4 linked regions of the Homo sapiens genome follow. The protein of the gene in region 3 purifies or fractionates together with the protein of the main gene of each other region. This does not show direct contact. Each region holds a gene or a part of one and is shown on either strand. Other genes may lie near its edges.

The links.
Region 1: the proteins of LYPLAL1 (region 3) and SETD6 purify together in Homo sapiens (co-immunoprecipitation; one large-scale study listed by IntAct). This does not show direct contact.
Region 2: the proteins of LYPLAL1 (region 3) and OPALIN purify together in Homo sapiens (co-immunoprecipitation; one large-scale study listed by IntAct). This does not show direct contact.
Region 4: the proteins of LYPLAL1 (region 3) and CELA3A purify together in Homo sapiens (co-immunoprecipitation; one large-scale study listed by IntAct). This does not show direct contact.

Annotation. Positions count from the first base shown.
Region 1 is NC_000016.10:58,514,316-58,518,851, reverse strand, and holds the start of SETD6 (N-lysine methyltransferase SETD6), read right to left. Parts: upstream 3,336-4,536; 5' UTR 3,315-3,335; coding exon 3,288-3,314; coding exon of another isoform or gene 3,062-3,287; coding exon 2,755-3,061; intron 2,651-2,754; coding exon 2,509-2,650; coding exon of another isoform or gene 2,404-2,508; exon of another isoform or gene 2,375-2,403; coding exon 2,180-2,374; intron 2,045-2,179; coding exon 1,924-2,044; intron 957-1,923; coding exon of another isoform or gene 945-956; exon of another isoform or gene 833-944; coding exon of another isoform or gene 802-832; coding exon 621-801; exon of another isoform or gene 620-620; intron 452-619; coding exon 309-451; intron 129-308; coding exon 1-128. UniProt on the Homo sapiens protein: Protein-lysine N-methyltransferase. Monomethylates 'Lys-310' of the RELA subunit of NF-kappa-B complex, leading to down-regulation of NF-kappa-B transcription factor activity. Monomethylates 'Lys-8' of H2AZ (H2AZK8me1).
Region 2 is NC_000010.11:96,351,968-96,356,002, reverse strand, and holds part of OPALIN (opalin), read left to right. Parts: intron 1-712; coding exon 713-748; exon of another isoform or gene 749-807; intron 808-2,474; exon of another isoform or gene 2,475-2,547; coding exon of another isoform or gene 2,548-2,556; intron 2,557-4,035. UniProt on the Homo sapiens protein: Central nervous system-specific myelin protein that increase myelin genes expression during oligodendrocyte differentiation. Promotes oligodendrocyte terminal differentiation.
Region 3 is NC_000001.11:219,176,523-219,180,420, reverse strand, and holds part of LYPLAL1 (lysophospholipase-like protein 1), read right to left. Parts: intron 1,275-3,898; coding exon 1,175-1,274; intron 1,022-1,174; coding exon of another isoform or gene 995-1,021; intron 1-994.
Region 4 is NC_000001.11:22,000,219-22,004,991, reverse strand, and holds the start of CELA3A (chymotrypsin-like elastase family member 3A preproprotein), read right to left. Parts: upstream 3,336-4,773; 5' UTR 3,318-3,335; coding exon 3,275-3,317; intron 1,990-3,274; coding exon 1,904-1,989; intron 1-1,903. UniProt on the Homo sapiens protein: Efficient protease with alanine specificity but only little elastolytic activity.

The DNA of each region.
Region 1 (4,536 bases), on a different chromosome or scaffold from region 3:
AGCTGTCTCCACGATGCTTTGAGCTTGGGAATATTTGTGATCGTCAGGCTGCCCTCTTCCCTTTTATCATCTCCCCCTCCATCCTGGTCTTTAAGCTCTCTGAACTCCTCAGCAGGCATGCACAGTACCTAGAAGCAACCACAGAGCTCTTTAATTAGATGTACTGCTTTTGTACTTCTGAAATGACTCAGGAGACTAAACTCATCTTAGCATTTATTAAAAATCCCACATTTCCTCTCTCATCTTCTAGCTATTTTGCTTTAAATACTTAGATTATCAGCATTAAATGGCCATTTTCAGCCGTTTACCTTTAGTGTGGTGGTCAGCTCCTCTTCAGTCAGCACCTCCTCCCTCCCTATCACAAAGGCTCCCTCTTCCCCTACCATCTCCAGTTTGCATAGGAAATCCCAGCGCTCGTACACTAGGTGCCTTTCAGCTTCAGTTTTTGTTCCTGTAGATGAAACAGCAATGTGAAAGTCTCAGTACACCCAAGGGTTCATTTCTTCTTTAGTCTGCCACCCAGTCTACAAAGTCAACTGCTATTTAGCAAAGCTATTTAACCTGAGGCATGGGTATAGACACACCATCAGTGTCAAATATTGAGTTAATGATACACTCACCCTGTAATGCTGCCTCACGAACTGTCACCATCTGAATGTCAGCTGTGTCATCTGTGTTGTCAGGATATGGTTCAACAAAACCGTACATATGAATCAGTTGCCAGTTAGCCATTTGCCCATAAGTGTTGAAAATCTCATGGCCTTTAGGAATGGGCTGAGTGGCTACCATCCGAAGACAATTCTGAGGTGAAAGGGAGAAGCTGGGGCCATGCCTTTCACGGGCCAGCCCCATGAAGATTATTTCCACTTAAGAAGAGCCTTCAGCAGGTGTAGTTCAGCCATGACTGATGCTGTTAACTACCAAAGTTCTACCTTTAGTTCCTGTTAGACCCTAAACTGTGAAACAAAAAAGGGTTGGGCTAACTTTAAAAGGCCAGCTTCATGTTTAACTGGGTGGATTTCTGCACAGTCCTCTTCAGCACTTAAAAAGTTGCTAGCTTTAAAAACGAAATTTTCGGCCAGGCGCAGTGGCTCACACCTGTAATCCCAGCACTTAGGGAGGTCAAAGTGGGCAGATCACCTGAGATCAGGAGTTCAAGACCAGCCTGGCCAACACGGAGAAACCCCATCCCTACTAAAAAATACAAAAATTAGCCGGGCATGGTGGCAGGAGCCTGTAATTCCAACTACTCGGGAGGCTGAGGCAGGGAGAATTGCTTGAACCCAGGAGGCGGCAGTTGCAGTGAGCCGAGATCACGCCACTGCACTCCAGCCTGGGCGACACAGTGAGACTCCGCCTCGGGGGGGAAAAAATGGAACTTTCGCAGATCAAAGTGGGAAAGGAAAATGGAGGCAAGGATTAAGAAATAACCATACTTACTAATTTCTGATCCTATAAATGTGCCATCTTTTCAGGCTACTTTTTATATAGAATAGAGCTGGTATAAACACAGCTTTATATCAGTTCTAGGATCGTCTTAGACCTTTGGCCTGTGAATGTCCTCATCCCTCCAAAACACGGAGACTATCACTGTTCCAGGCTGCTATCCACAGAGCCACACACAGTCTGGGCTCACTGATGTGATCAGCCAGAAAGGAATGAAACATGGCTATGCAGACCACTCAATGTCTAGCACTAAATAAATGATGGTAGTATAGTTTATCAGAGGATTAACCACAACTTACTTTGAGGACTTTAAAATGTTTCGCATTCAAATGATTCTACAGTAATATGCATACTAAAAGGACATACAGGAGGAGCTGATTTCACCTACTCATTTTGTAGCACTAGTAAGAGAATGGAGCCTAAGACACAATGGCTTGAATCATGCTCAATCAGTGCACCAAGAGAAACTCCACTCACCGCAGAGTATTCTAGATTGGCGTTGTGATTGGCTAAGTGGTTTAGTATGTCTGCAGCAGGCACCATCACGGGGGAGTTGGGCTCCTTTTCATCCTCTTCTTCCTCCAGTGGTTCCTGAAAGCTGCCATTGACAGAACCTGGCTAAGGCCCTGTCTTGGGTGAGGGACTGGGGGTGGATTTCACTGTTTTTCCACTTTTGTCCCTCTATAGAGTTGTAAAGAAAAGGGTTCCGTCCTCAGAGGCCCCACCCACTGACCTATAGGCCATCACAAGGGCCACCAGCTGGTGGTAGAGTTCTAGGGAGCGAACCCTGAGGCTGAAGAGATCGGGGTGGGCTTCCATGAAGGGCAGCACGATGGACTGGTACTCGCTGCGGATGTTGGCCAAATCCTTCTCCACGGCCTCAGGTACGCCTGTGCCCTGGAGCAGGCACCGGCGCTCCTCCTCTGGCCTGCAGGGACACCCACACCCAGGTTCCCTTCATTCCTTCACACACTTTACTGGGTAGGACTGGTGCAGGGGCGGGGAAACTTCTTGCAGCAGGCTACGGTGCAGGCGCTCCCCAACCCCTCCCAAGGCTCTCACCAGAACATCGGGTGCTCCAAGCGGCCCAGCTCGGGCCAGAGCGCAAAGTAGGGCCTCCAGCGTGAGGCCGGGGCCTGCAGCTCGTGGAGCAGCGCCAGCAGCAGTGGCACCCAGCCCGACTGGCTCTGCAGCGCAACTCGCTCTGAGGAAGACACAGGTGTGAGCGCCCCGGCGCGGCCTCGCGGGCCGGGCCCGCCCCGCCCCGCCCCGCCCCGCCCCAGGGCCCTAGCCCGCCGCCGTGCCCACCTCGCTCCAGCAGGCCGCCGATGGAGCAGGTGTGCTGCGACAGGAGCGCGGCCCGCGGCACCACGAACAACAGCTCTCCGGCCTGCACGCTCTCCCGGGCCACCATGCCGTAGCCGGCCACCGTGCCCTGCCGGCTGACCGCCACCTGAGCAGGAGGGCTGGTCAGGGCAGCCCGCGCCCCGCCGCGGGTCCTCCGCCCGCCGGCTCGCTCGCTCACCTTGGGACTCAGCTCCAGCCCCACCCGCCGGCACCAGCTCAGGAAGCAGGCCACAGGATCCAGGTCGCCGCCGTCCACGGGCCCCGCCACCTGAGATAAGTGCGCGCAGTGACCAGGTCCGACCCCCAGAGAGGCCGCTGGGAACTGCAGGAGACCGCGGCGCGAGCGCAGAACGGGCTTTGGGTGGAGGAGGGGACGAGCGGAGAGGGGCGCGGGACCCGCGGGAGGGAGCGGAGGGGGCGCAGGCGGACGGTTCTGCGAACGGAGAAGGGGTGAGGCGCGGAGGAAAAGGCTGGACCCCGCGCCCGCCACTCACCCGTGGACGCTTCGCCTGGGTCGCCATGGTCTAAGAGCGCGTTTCCTCGCGGGCCGGCGCACCGCGCGGTCACTTCCGGCGTCTCTGGCCCCGCCCCGGCGCCGGAACCACGTGGTGCCTGTTTTGTCGTCCACGCTGCAGACTGGCCGGAGTTACCGCGGGCTGGAATCGTTCCTCATGAAAACATCTTGAGTCCAGGATCTCCAATTGCACTCACGCGCTGCGAGTGCAGAAGGAGAGTCCCGTGCCGCTTGGCGCCTGGTTCTGAGCCAGGTACAGCCCTGGCCTTCGGTCTGTCCCCGAGGGCTGAGGCTTCTTGCGGTCTGGGTGCAAGAACAAAATACGGTTTCTGGATCGGAAGCCGAGGGTCTGGTGGCCGGCCGGTGGTGAGCGACGCAACTGGGCGGCGAGCGACCTCCTGATCTCGACCCCTTGTTGCCGATGGCCATGGAACCCTTTTACTGGTGGTATTCGTTCAGAGCAGTTTTCGTGTGTGTTTCAGAGTGGCGTGGCCTAGAGGGCTCCTGGATCTAGAATAGATCCTCTCTGCCCTTATTTGCCAGTACATCCTCGTTTTTAATCTGCTGCATAGCACGTGGTGGGTTTTATTAGCTGACATAGTAGGGACTCAATATCTACCTATTGGGTAAATAAATGAATAAAACAAATGGTGGTTAAACCTGGGGAAGTAGCATGCTGTTAAATGTAAGAAAATGAGGCTGTGAATATAGAGGTTACAGGAATGGGTTTTGAAGCCAAGCAACGCCGCAGCTCAACACTCAGTTTTTTTTTTTTTTCCTTTTTTTTTTTTTTTTTTTTGGCGCGTTGGGGAGACGGGAGTCTCGCCCAGGCTGGAGTGCAGTGGTGCGATCTCGGCTCACTGCAACCTCCACCTCCCGGGTTCAAGCAATTCCCCTGCCTCAGCCTCCCAAGTAGCTGGGACTACAGGCGTACGCTGCCATGCCCAGCTAATTTTTTGTGTTTATTTTTAGTAGAGTCGGGGTTTCACCGCGTTGCCCAGGCTGGTCTCGAACTCCTGAGCTCAGGCAATCCCCCCGCCTCGGCCTCCCAGAGTGCTAGGATTACAGGCGTGAGCCACCGCGCGCGGCCTGGTCTGTTACTCAGGCAAATCCTTTTTCCTGAACCTTAGTCTCCTCACCTGCGAAACTAAGATAATACCTACTCTGTAGAATTAATGTAAGGATTGGTATGTTGACTAAAGAAAAAATATTAAGCTTTTAAATAATTA
Region 2 (4,035 bases), on a different chromosome or scaffold from region 3:
GGGGCTAGGGACAGGGAGGAGAAAGGAGCCACCTGAGGCCCTGGGCAGGCTACTTGGTGCTCCACTGAGCCCACGATCTTTAAATTTGGACTCCATATTTGCGGGAGAGGTGAGACCATCTACTAAGTGAGGGGAGGAAAGAGAAGGGTTTGCTGTTCCCCTGTCCTCCTGGCCACTTCAGCTCCAGCAACCTAGAACCTCTGCCTCAGTTGTAGCAAAAACAGAAGCCTTGCCTTCCCCGGGTAAGGATCAGGTGTTCTTGTTAGACCATGCCCTTTGGGGGTCTTACCTTCTACTCCAAGGAGAAAACACAAAATACTTCTAAATTCAACAGTTTTCTGTCTCAAAGGAGTTCTAGAGGGAATAAACATAATTTTAGCCTTTTGCTGAATTTCTAGTCATGTGTTTGCTGCCCTTGTGAATGGGACCCCTCAGACAATAGCCTTGCAGGCTGCCTCTTCATCTGATCCTGGTCGAGGACCTGGTTGGGGGCGGTGGCAAGACTGACTTGATGCTGAGGGAGGAACTCATGACAGGCTCCTTGCCTCCCCTTCCTTCTTTTGGGGCCAAGACTGTGCAGGACGATGGGGGCTGGCTGAGTCTATAGGATCAATGACCTCTCGGAATCCACCAGGGTCAGTGAGTTTGAGGAAGTGAGGAAGGAGCTTGCTGACCATCCCTGGGAGCTTTAATGTTTACTTCTATCTTGCAGAGTTTTTCACTGAACTTCACCCTGCCGGCGAACACAGTAAGTACAGCAGCCCCCATTCACCAGGCAACGCAGAGAAGACCAGTGCAGAATTTACAGTAGGTCTCCAGAACTCACATAAACCCCTCACACACGGTGATAAGTTACACAGACTTTCTTTTTTTTTTTTTTTTTTTTTTTTTTTTTTTTTTTTTTTTGAGACAAGGTCTTGCTCTGTCACCCAGGCTGGAGTGCAGTGGCATGATCTCGACTCACTGCAACTTCCACCTCCTGGGTTCAAGCGATTCTCCTGCCTCAGCCTCCTGAGTAGCTGGGATTACAGGTGTGCACCACCATATCCGGCTAATTTTTGCACTTTTTAGTAGAGACAGGGTTTTGCCATGTTGGCCAGGCTGGTCTCAAACTCCTGACCTCAGGTGATCCGCCCACCTCAGCCTCCCAAAGTGCTGGGATTATAGGTGTGAGCCACCGTGCCCGGCCATTTACATAAACTTTCAAAACGCACTGAGGAATAGTTGAGAGATGCTGAGAGAATTTATTTCCATTATAAAACTTATAAATACACATTTTGAAAAGGAAAATAGGAAAACAACAACAACAATAAAACACCTAAACTCTCATCAGCAGAAAACTGGTGTAACCCTTCCTGTCCTGTTTGGCGTTACATAAATTTTGACTTTTGTTGCCTTTGTACTATTGTTTTCTTACTCTACATATAATTTTATATCTAAATGTTTTCCACTAGTCTTTATAACCATAACTGTTATATGGTTAATCACATAATCATGTGATCATATTATGATCGCATAATATTTTTTCAAGTTAATTATTTCTTCAGTTGATTAACTATCATTAGGAATAACTTTGTGATACATGGCATTTTAGAGAATCCTTATCTGCATTTAAGATAATTTCCTTGTATGTATTCTAAAATGGGAATGATTGGGTCAACAAGAATGAACATTTTATGGCTCTTGATTATGGCATTTAGTTGCAAGTCAAAATTGAGGTTTTCAATTGTCGATGTTAGAGTTTCAATCCACAGCTGATCCTCCGTCTTCTGTTTGCACATTGCATATAGATAACACTAAGAGCCAAGGTTGTTATCTGATCAGTAGCACTACTATGGTTGAGCAAGGCATTTTTCTGGCCCAGTTTTTTAGTGGGCTTGGCTGTGCCACATTTTTCTGATAAGTTGTCTGGTTATTCAAAGAGAATAAACTGAATCTTACTCGTAAGAGGACTCCTAAGCCAGTGCTCATTTTACTGAAACATGGGGGCATAGTTCTAGAGAGTAGCATAAAGTTAGAACATTGTGACTTATTGCTGGACCTGTGGTGCCCACCACTGTCTGCCCAGACCTCTGTGAACTGAATACATTGGCACCTGCTCCAGCCTCTGGTGGGGGGCACTTCTGAACCTCCCCAACTTGCTCTGCTTCCCTGCTTCAGCTTCTGCCTGTTGGTTTCAGGCAAATTCCCTAATTCTTCCTCTTTTTCCTGTCAAAACCTTTTCCTTCAATCACTGCTGGAACTTTCCCCTGGCTGTTGGAACCCAGCAGGTCCATAGACACTCCAGGTTCTGTGTTATCTTGGCCCATCACATCAAGAGAATGCAGAGAAGCAAGAAGCCATTTCTTGGGGAGTGGGGGTGAATGGGGTGGAAGAGAGCCCTTATGTGGCCAGTCATCACCCTTTGGAGTACTCTCTTGGTTAACAGCTCATTTCTCTGAGAACTGTCTCTTCACCCCTTTGATCCCGTGTAGAGCAACCAACCATTTTGCTTTGCCTGGTGTTGTCTGTTTTTAGCACTGAAAGTCCTGGGCAGCTCTCTGGACAATGCGGATGGTAGGTCATCCTGCCTGGAAGTCACATTTCTACTGCATAACCCTTCCACTTCAGTGCAGCTGGGTAGCCTGGGAATGCCAGTGCCCTGGGAAGTGGGACAGAGGTGGGCACCTGGATCCCTCTCTGCGGGAAGTTTGGAACAGGGCTCCCTGCTGGCCAGTCCCTGCTGAGGACTGAAATGCCAGGTTCAGTCTATTTGTCAGTTCAGTCCATACTGAACTGTCAAGTATGAAAAATGGGACTAAGACACTGCATTAGGCCATGGAGGCCATGTAGCACAGTGGTTAAGAGCATGGATCCCAGAGCCAGACTGCCCGGGGGGGTGTCACCTAGGGCTGTGTGACCTTACACAAGTTACTTCACTTCTCTGTGCCTTGCTCCTCTCATCTGTAAAATGAGATCATCATAGTCCCATTACTATTCACTGGCAGTTGTATAGAATAAATAAGTCAATATGGGAAAAATTCTTGAACAGCCTGGCACATCCTAAGTGCTCCATGGCATTAGCTGGTACAATTAGCAGGAGTTTATGAGGGCAGAAAAGTCCATCTGGAGAGAAAGAGAGAAGCAAACATCAGAGAACAGTACAGGCAGAAGGCCGTGCTGCTCTGGAGCGAAGGAGAAAGGAGGGTGCCTTCGGTTCACACAAGTTCCCCGTTCCAAGGTCCACTCCCTGGAGAAACCAGCTTCCCACCTGTCCTTGGGCTCCATGGGACACTCCCATATTCTTAGAGTTAACACCTTCCTTTTTTTTTTTTTTTTTTTAGTGAAAGCCACCCTAAGTGTATTTCTGTACTCTGAAGACAGGAAGCCTTACCTGAAACAATGGCTGATTCTTCCTACTACCCTTAGAGCACCTTAGGGAAATGCAGGATTAAAGTAGTGTGGGGGTAGGGGTTGGGGAGATTGTGATTAGGTCAAAGGACAACCATTTAAGTACCAAGTTTCAGTGCCTGGTCATCAAAACCTTCTTTTGATGGGAGCTCTCTGGGAAAGAGGTCTGGGCTTGGAAGTCAAACATCCAAGTTCAGATTAGAGTTATGATTATCTGTGAAACCTTGGACAAGCCCCATAACTTCTCTGAGATCTATTACATTTTTTTTTTGTAAAATGGAGTTAATAATTGTCAAAAGTCCAAGCCCCAGGACTCCAGTATACTTGATGAGATTGCTGAGAGTATTAAATAAATAACAGATCTGGACAGAGCTTTGCAAAGTGTAAAGGGCTGACAAGAGTTCATAGTTCTGCTCCTCATTCAATCCTCCTAATAACCCTAGAGGCAGCTACTACTATCCCTGTAGATATTGTGTAGATAGAGACATGCAACCCCTTAGCTTGTAAATTGAGAAATGGCTGTTCTATGGCAGGCAGTGTGAGCCCAGGACCTGTGCTCTTAATCCCACAGCATACCACTTAGTGTAGTTTACATAGTTTCTCATGCAGAACTTTATTCCTTTAGATTTCCTAATCAAGGTAAAC
Region 3 (3,898 bases):
AAGTAAGTAAATTCTTATTAGTACATATAAAAACGTCCTTGAAGTTCTGGTTTTATTTCTCCTTAATACTAAGTTAATGAAAATATAAAGCAAGGCATTTGCATAGTATGCCTGATAAGAAAAAAATCAAGAACAGGCCAGGTGCAGTGCCTCATGCCTGTAATTCCAGCACTTTTGGGAGGCCGCGGTGAGTGGATCACCTCAGGTCAACAGTTCCAGACCAGCCTAGCCAACATGGCAAAACCTTGTCTTTAAAATTAGCTGGGCGTGGTGTCACATGCCTGTATTCTCAGCTAGGCAGGAGGCTGAGGCAGGAGAATCCTTTGAACTTGGGAGGCAAAGGCTGCTGTGGGCCAAGACTGCACCACTGCACTCCAGCCTAGGCAACAGAGTGAGACTCTGTCTGGAAAAAATAAAAAAAGAAGAAGAAAAAGAAACAAAAAAAAATCAAGAACAGATTATGAGAAAAATCAGATTGGGGCGTAGCTCCACACATCATTTCACTTAACCAAAAAAAAATCCCAATCCCTGATTTACGGCATGTGTTCCGAATAAAAGACTATGCAGATGTTAATTTAATATTTACAAAGAGTAGTTTGACCTCAAAACTATAGCAGTTTTATTACTGTGAATTTTTTGCACACACCTACAGGTTATATAACCTAAATATTTATTAAGTAGTCAATTCTATCTTCCTATTCTGGTTTACTGATTAAAAAAGCATAACATTGTTTCTTGATAATCCTTTTAAATGTGGAAAGAATGCCATAAAACCCTTTCCCAGAGATTATGAATTCTGGCTTAACTAAATTATTAGAAAGATTATACTTGTTGGAGTTATTAAGTTTCCTTTTGGGGTGAATGTAGGGAAGAAGTATGAAAGTTGAGCAATCTGCAGGGCAAGAGGAAGCAGAGTTACATAAGCCATGCTTGGGACACAGTTTAAATTCAGAGCTTTAGGGAATGCTTTACAGAAAGGGAATAAATTACTCACCTGGCAAAACTTGGTCCAACAGTGTAACTGCAATAAAGAATACATTCTGGGGACAAAGTACTCTAATTTAAAGTATGTTAAATACAAAATTAAGCTTAAAGAACACCTAGCTGGCACATCTCTCTATATATATTTTATGCCACAGAGTTATATTGACAAGTGAGATAAATTACTGCATACCTGGGAGGAGCTGTTGGATAAATAATTTTTATGTGTTGGAATGTTAAATCTTGATTTAAAACCTGCTTGATCCACATTCTTAATCCTTGTCCAGAATCACCTGATGAATCAAAAAATCTAGATTAAAATAAATATTTTAGTAATACAATGCATTTCAAAGCAGTCTAAAACTTTTATGTCACACAGAGGATGGAATAAAGGATTTAAAAAAGCTCCATACATCATAATAACCATATAGAAACTGACTTACTAATATGAATTAACTAACTAGGTCTCAATAACTAGCAATAATTTTGATTATTTTACTCCTGGCTTCACCATTGATTACTCTGAAGATCTTGTTTAAGCTTAAGTTTTAAGTTACCTAATTTGTTTAGTGGGTAGTACAGGAATAAATAAATAAATTGATTTTTCTAAAAAAAATTTTATTTCTGTATTTATATGTGACTTTTAATAGTCATTTCTTATCATATTCTTAATAGTAATAAATTCCTAAAGTGACTGTTAAACTTCTGTAGTTAGAAGAACCTAATTTTCTTGGTTAAAAAAAGTCCAAAATGTGTGTTCAGTGTAATTTTATTTTAACTTGAAAAAATCATAATTTAATTTTGACAACATGTTTACATGACCTAAAAGAAGAATTATCTACTCCAAAGCTGGTAAGTAATAAAAAGCCATATAAATATTAATGTATATGTATTTACAGAAAAAAATGGAAGGAAATATAAGTCCATCTTATGGAGTCCTGAGGAGGAAATTAAGGTCACAACTTTAATTTTTTAATCAATTAACTCATTAAGGTATCAGTTCAAAAACTGCCTATTGAATCCCTGTTAATGTGTCAAGCACTGTGTTCACTGCTAGAGAGGCAATGATGGTGGGGTGAGGGAGGAATAGAGTCCCTATTCTCATGGAGTGTGTAGCATATTGTGAAAAACAGAAATTAGTCAAAAAATCACACAAATAAATGTGAAAGGCAAATGTACCTGCTTCAAAAATGAGACACTTGGTGTTGCAAATATTTATTTTATTCACAACTGACTGGGTTTATGGAGTTCAACAATAAATGCACTAGCCTATAAACTCTGCAAGAGGAAGTTTATGATGTATTTTATCTGAGTTATTTGTTCACATAGTGCCTAGAACAGGACTGACAAAAACTGGGTATCCAAATATAGTTGCTGAATGGTTTGAACTAAAGTCTACAGGATGGTGAGAAGTGCAGGGCAGAAGAAAAAAGTATCCCAGGGCGAGGAAAGGGCAGGTGCCAGGATTCTGGATAAGAGGGAGCAGTATGACATGTAAGAACTGAAAAGCAGAGAATGAAAAGAGCAGTGTCTATAAAATGAGACCAGAGAAACTGTAGGAACGTGACAAATCTGTTCATGAAGAAGTCATGAATATTTCTGACAGAAAGGTTGGCATGATTCTAAAGGATCAATCTGGAAGCTGTGTCAAGACAGAATTGAAAGAGAGCAAAAGTAGATGTACAGAGATCAGTTAGGAAACTACTGTTCATGCTTAGACTACAGCGATGATGTAGATAGAAACAGATACTAGAGAAATTTAGGTGGTAAAATTAATAGAGATTGGCAACGGATTTGTTATAAAGGGTCAACAGTAAAAGGTCTCATGGATGACTAACAGGCTTTTGGCCGGAGTAACTGGGTGAACAATACTAGACACCTGCCTAGACAGGAAACATAAGCAACAGGCATACACAGGTTGAGTGTGAGGTGCCTCTTTGTAATGCATACAAGGTCTTATACCATGGGTTGATTGAGCAACTATGGACAGCTAGAGGGGAGGACAAAATCCAGCCTAGGGTCCTTAAGGAGGATAAGCTAAGAATGAGTTTTACATTATTAAAGACTCCTTTCTCAAAAAGAGAGAGAAGGGAAAACTATGGGGAAGAGACCTTACATGGCCCACAAAAGCTAAAATGCTTACCTGACTTTTTGCAGAAAGTTTGCCAACCCCTGCCCTACACTACCTGGATGCCAGTACCCTCTTGGATATCCCTTCCTATTCTTCTCACTCCAGACACACTAGCCTTACTGCTGTTCCTTGAACATGTCAAGGACCCTACCCTGGAGCCTCCGACTTGGCTTTAAAGCCAAGTCTAAGTCTAGCTGTGAAGTTTCATCTTCTGTCATCTTTGCAGTGAGGCATAACCTGACTACTTTATTTAAAATTGTAACACTGTTCCAACTTCTCATCCATGGAAGAATCCCCTTATCCTGCTTTCCTTGTTTCCATAAAACTTACTACCTTCTACTATAGTATTTATTTACTTCATTAGAACATAAGCTCCATGAGAGCAGTGATTTGTTTTTTTCATTGCTGTATGATCAGAGCACAGAACAGTGCCTTACACATGGAGGCTGTGATATATTTCTTGAATGAATGGATTCATGAATGAATGTCTATCAGGCAGTTAGATGAACTTGTCTAGAGCTCAAAAATAGAATCTATGAATCTCCACAGAAATTCAAAGGTTCTATTTTTACCTATACACCAGTGACACAAATGGGTATCTCTAGGAGACTTCTGTGATTAGCCTAGGGAGAAAAATGTAGAGTGAAAAGACCTTGGACCAAATTTAGAGAAACCCCATCATTAATGGCCAGGTAGAGGAGGATGAGTCTGCAAAAGAAACCAGAAGGAGCAAATCAAGACAGAAAAAGAACCAGGAGAGTTTTTTGAGAAGAAAGCTGAATGCAG
Region 4 (4,773 bases), about 200 Mb from region 3:
CAGTAACCGGGATTACAGGCACCTGCCGTCGTGCCTGGCTAATTTTGTATTTTTAGTAGACACGGAGTTTCACCATGTTGGCCAGGCTGGTCTCGAGCTCCTCACCTCAGGTGATCTGCCCACCTCGGCCTCCCGAAGTGCTGGGATTACAGGCGTGAGCCACCGCGCCCAGCCCCCCTGACTCTTTTGAACCTCAGCTCTTTCAAGGCCTCTTGAGCCTTCTGAAGCACAGCTCACCCTGATGAGTTCTTTGCCTCTCTTCCCATTTCCTACACATTCTGATTTTCAAAAGCTCCATCTAGACCAGGGTTAGCAAACTGTGGACAGTGGGGCACATCAGGCTTCTGGTCTGTTTTTGTAATAAAGATGTCCTGGAAATAGTCACATTCATTTCTGTATTGTTTGTGTCTGCTTTCATGCTACCATGGCACAGTCAAGTCATTACTATCCAAACCATCAAATAACCTAAAATATTCACTCTCTGGCCATTTACAGAATAAGCCTGCTGACCCTCTCCGATAAAACTTCCCATAATCATGGGAATGTTCTATATCTTTGCTGTCCAATATGGTAGCCACTAGCCACATGTGACTATTGAACATTTGAAATGTGGCAAGCAGGCCAAGCATGGTGGCTTACGCCTATAATCCCAGCACTGTGGGAGGTCAAGACAGGAGGATCACTGGAGCTCAGAAGTTCGAGGCAAGCCTGGGCAACATAGTGAGACCCCATCTCTACAACAATGTATAAAAATTAGCTGGGCATGGTGGCGCATGCCTGTAGTCCTAGCTACACAGGAGGCTGAGGTGGGATTATTGCTTGGACCTAGGAGGTCAAGGCTGCAGTAAGCTGAGATCACACCACTGCACTCCAGCCTGGGCAACACAGCAAGACCCTGTCTCAAAAAAAAAAAAAACAAAGAAAAGAAAAGAAAAGAAAAAAGCACTGAGGAAATGAATTGTTAACATTTTTAATGTAAGTAAATTTCAGCTGGGTGCAGTGACTCACACCTGTAATCCCAGCACTTTGAGAGGCCGAGGCAGGTGGATCACCTGAGGTCAGAAGCTCCAGACTGGCCTGGCCAACACAGTGAAACCCTGTCTCTACTAAAAATACAAAATTAGCCGGGCTTGGTGGCGCGTGCCTGTAATCCCAGCTACTTGGGAGGTGAGGTAGGAGAATTGCTTGAACCCGGGTGGCAGAGTTTGCAGTGAGCCAAGATTGTGCCATTGCACTTCAGCCTGGGCAACAAGAGTGAAACTCTGTCTCAATAATAATAGTAATAATAATTTAATTTAATTTTTTTTTTTGAGACAGAGTCTCACTCTGTTGCCCGGGGCTGGAGTGCAGTGGTGCAATCTTGTCTCACTGCAACCTCCAACTCCCAGGTTCAAGGGATTCTCCTGCCTCAGCCTCCTGAGTAGCTGGGATTACAGGCGTGAGCCACCGCACCTGGCCTAATTTAATTAAATTTAAATAGCCACAGCACATCAAGTCCAGCCTTCTGAGCTTCCCTCCACTGGCCTTACAAGATCCCTCACTCCCTTATTGCTTTCAGACCTCAAAGCCCTGTAGTATCATCCTAGGAATCTAGAAATGAGTCTCTCAAAATCTCACTTCGTCAACACAGTGCCTGAAATTCCACCATCAGTGTGCCAACTCCTTGAGTTTAGCATTTCCTTCACCCCCGATTCCAATTTTAAGTTGCAAATAGCCCAGTGAGGGTTACAGATGAAACGGGCAAAACCTCCCCGTGAAGTAGATGGTCCAAGGGCTGCCTGGTCTTTGGAAGCTGAAGTGGACATTGCAAAGGGAGCAATGGTGTCAAGGCTGGATGCCACGCCATTAGAGCTTAGGGTCCAGAGCCCACGGTGGGAATGAGGGCAGCTGCTATTGCTCTTACCTGCCAGGGCCAGCTGTAGGGGACCGCATCCTCACCATGGACAACGCGGCTGGAAGAGTGAGAGGAAGGTGGGCCATAGCCTGAGGCTAGAGGGGAGAGGAGAGCTGTCAATCAGCTGGAGGGTCCCCAAAAGCAAAGAGGAGGCCAGGGTCCCAGTCCAAGCCATGCCTTCAACTGGCTGTGTGACCCCATGCAAGCCCCTTTCGCCCTCTGGACCTCAGTAACCACATATGAACAGTGAACATTTAAACTAGAGCAGGGCTTTCCAGAATCCCAGGAGTCCAGGGATAGAGATTCAAATGTGGCCTCCTTCATTGGGAGGATTGAAGAGCTTGATACACTTAGAACAATGCCTGGCCCTCGATGAGCCCTCAAAAAGTGAGAGCTATTGTCATACAGAGTGGAGGCTTTAAAGAAGGACTTCCTGGGTTCAAAGTGCAGCTCTGGGCTGTGTGTGGTGGTTCACACCTGTAATCCTAGTGCTCTGAGAGGCCGAGGCGGGAGGATCGCTTGAGCCCGGGAGTTTGAGACCAGCCTGGGCAACATAGCAAGACCTCATCTCTAGAAAAATAAAGTACAATAAAATAAAGTAGCCAGGTATGGTGGCATGTGCCTATAATCTCAGCTACTCAGGAGGCTAAGGTGGTAGGATTGCTTGAGGCCAGGATTTTGAGACCAGTCTGGGCAACAAAGCAAGACCCCATCTCTACAAAAAAAAAGCAAAAAATAAAAACATTAAGTGCAGCTCTGCCTTTTGTTCTATGATAAGCTACTTTACTTCCTTGAGGGTCAGTAAAATGGGGGATAATGATAGTACTGATCTCCTGAGGCTGTTGTGAGAATTACATGAGAAAGTATAAGAAAATCCCTAAACATTCTGCCTGGCATAGTAAGCACTCAATCAATGTTATCTGTTACCATTATTGTCAGTCAAGGGAGGCTGTTTGGAAGAGGTGGCCCTGAGCTGGAATGTAATATGGCAGAGAGACCAGGAAAAGGCCAGAGCATAGAATATGGAGCCAGGTAGGGGGAGTGAGAGGAGAGTTGGAGTGGTAAGTAGAACTGTGGAAATTCCAACCCAAGAAGTCCAACCACACAGTCCAAACTCTTAACCGTTTGACTTTGTTTACTGCCCCCATCAAGGACTTCCACCACAGCCCTTTGGGGGTCTTTCACCATCCACAGCTTCCCCTCCACTCTCCTGCTCCATCATAAGCTGAAAGCCCCTACAGTCATGCCCCCGGGTACAAGCTGAGACCCCCTCCTGTGGAACCAGGCATAGCATGTCATGGGACTCAGAGCGAGTGGTAGATTTCAAGGATTCCTAGTCCAGGGCAGCCCAGGGAGCACACAGACAGGTTGGGGTCTTACCAACGGCCACAAGGAGGAGGGAACTGAGCAGCCGGAGCATCATGAGTTTTGTGATGATAGGAAAAGGGCACAGAGCCTGGGGCTCTAATATAGGGCAGAAGGTAAGCAGGGGGGCTGATTGGGCCCCACTCCCAGAACAGGTGGTGGAACTCCAGGTCTCCCATGGTCCAAGGCCACAGTCCTCGCCTGCTGCAGATGGACAAGTGACAGCCAAAGGGAGGACCTAGCGTTCCCTCCAACAGGTGGCTGGACAGGTGGTGTGGAGTGGCCAACTGATAACAAGAGTTCAGGAAGAAAAGCTCATGTCAGGACAAGACCTCCTCTTTCGGAAAGAACAGGGGCACTGGAACCGGGCAGACCACGGTTCAATCCTGGTTCTGCCACCTTCAAGCTCTGCGACTTTGGGCGCATGGCTTAACCTCTCTGAGTCTCAGTTTTCTGCTCTCTAACATGAGATTTATATTAGTACCCACCTCCACAAAAAAATTCTTGTTGAGCACTTTTTCTCTATGTATCAGGCACTGTTCTAGGGGATACAGCTGTGAAAAATGCATGGTCTCAGCCCTTCTAGAGTTTGAGTCTAGGCCAGGAGCGGTGGCTCACACCTGTGATCCCAGCGCTTTGGGAGGCCAAGGTGGGAGGATCACTTGAGGTCAGAAGTTCGAGACATGATGAAACCCTATCTCTACTAAAACTACAAAAATTAGCCAGGTGTGGTGGTGAGCACCTGTAATCCCAGCACCTGTAATCCTAGCTACTGGGAGGCTGAGGGAGGAGAATCACTTGAACCTGGGAGCGGAGAGGCAGAGGCTACAGAGAGCCGAGATCATGCCACTGCACTCCAGCCTGGGCCACAGAGCAACACTGTCTCAAAAAACAAAAACAAAACCAAAAAAAAAAACAGAGAAGAAAAGAAAATGAAACATAGGTGATTGGGGTAGGAATGGGAGTAAGTCATTTAGATGGGGGGGACAGAGAAAGTGACATTTGGGCTGAGGAGGTCATATCTGATGGAGTCCTGAGGATAAGTAAAAGCCAGCCACGGGAATCCCTGAAAGAAACGCGCTCTGAAGGGAGGCGACAGCAGGTGCGAAGTTCTGGAGGCTGCAATGGGCTTGACTTGTTCAAGGAAGGGGAGGCCAGTGTGACAGGAGCTTGGTAGTCAAAGTAGAGAGGGGTGGGAGATGAGGTCAAAGAGCAGGCGACCCCGAAAGTGGAATTCACAGGTGATCCAGCCGTTTCCCTCCTAGGTCTATACCGTGAGAAAACCTTAGGCATGTGCTCCAGGAGGTGTGGATGAGATTGTTTGCCGCAGCCCCTGTTCTCAAAACTCAACAGCAAAGACCTAGAAACAACTCCCACGTCCATCAAGGTTCATAGGTCAATATGTGTAGCATATTCACACAATAGATTTTTTTTTTTATAGTGGTGCGATCTTGGCTCACTGCAACCTCCACCTCACGGGTTCAAGCGATTCTCCTGCCTCAGCCTCCTGAGTA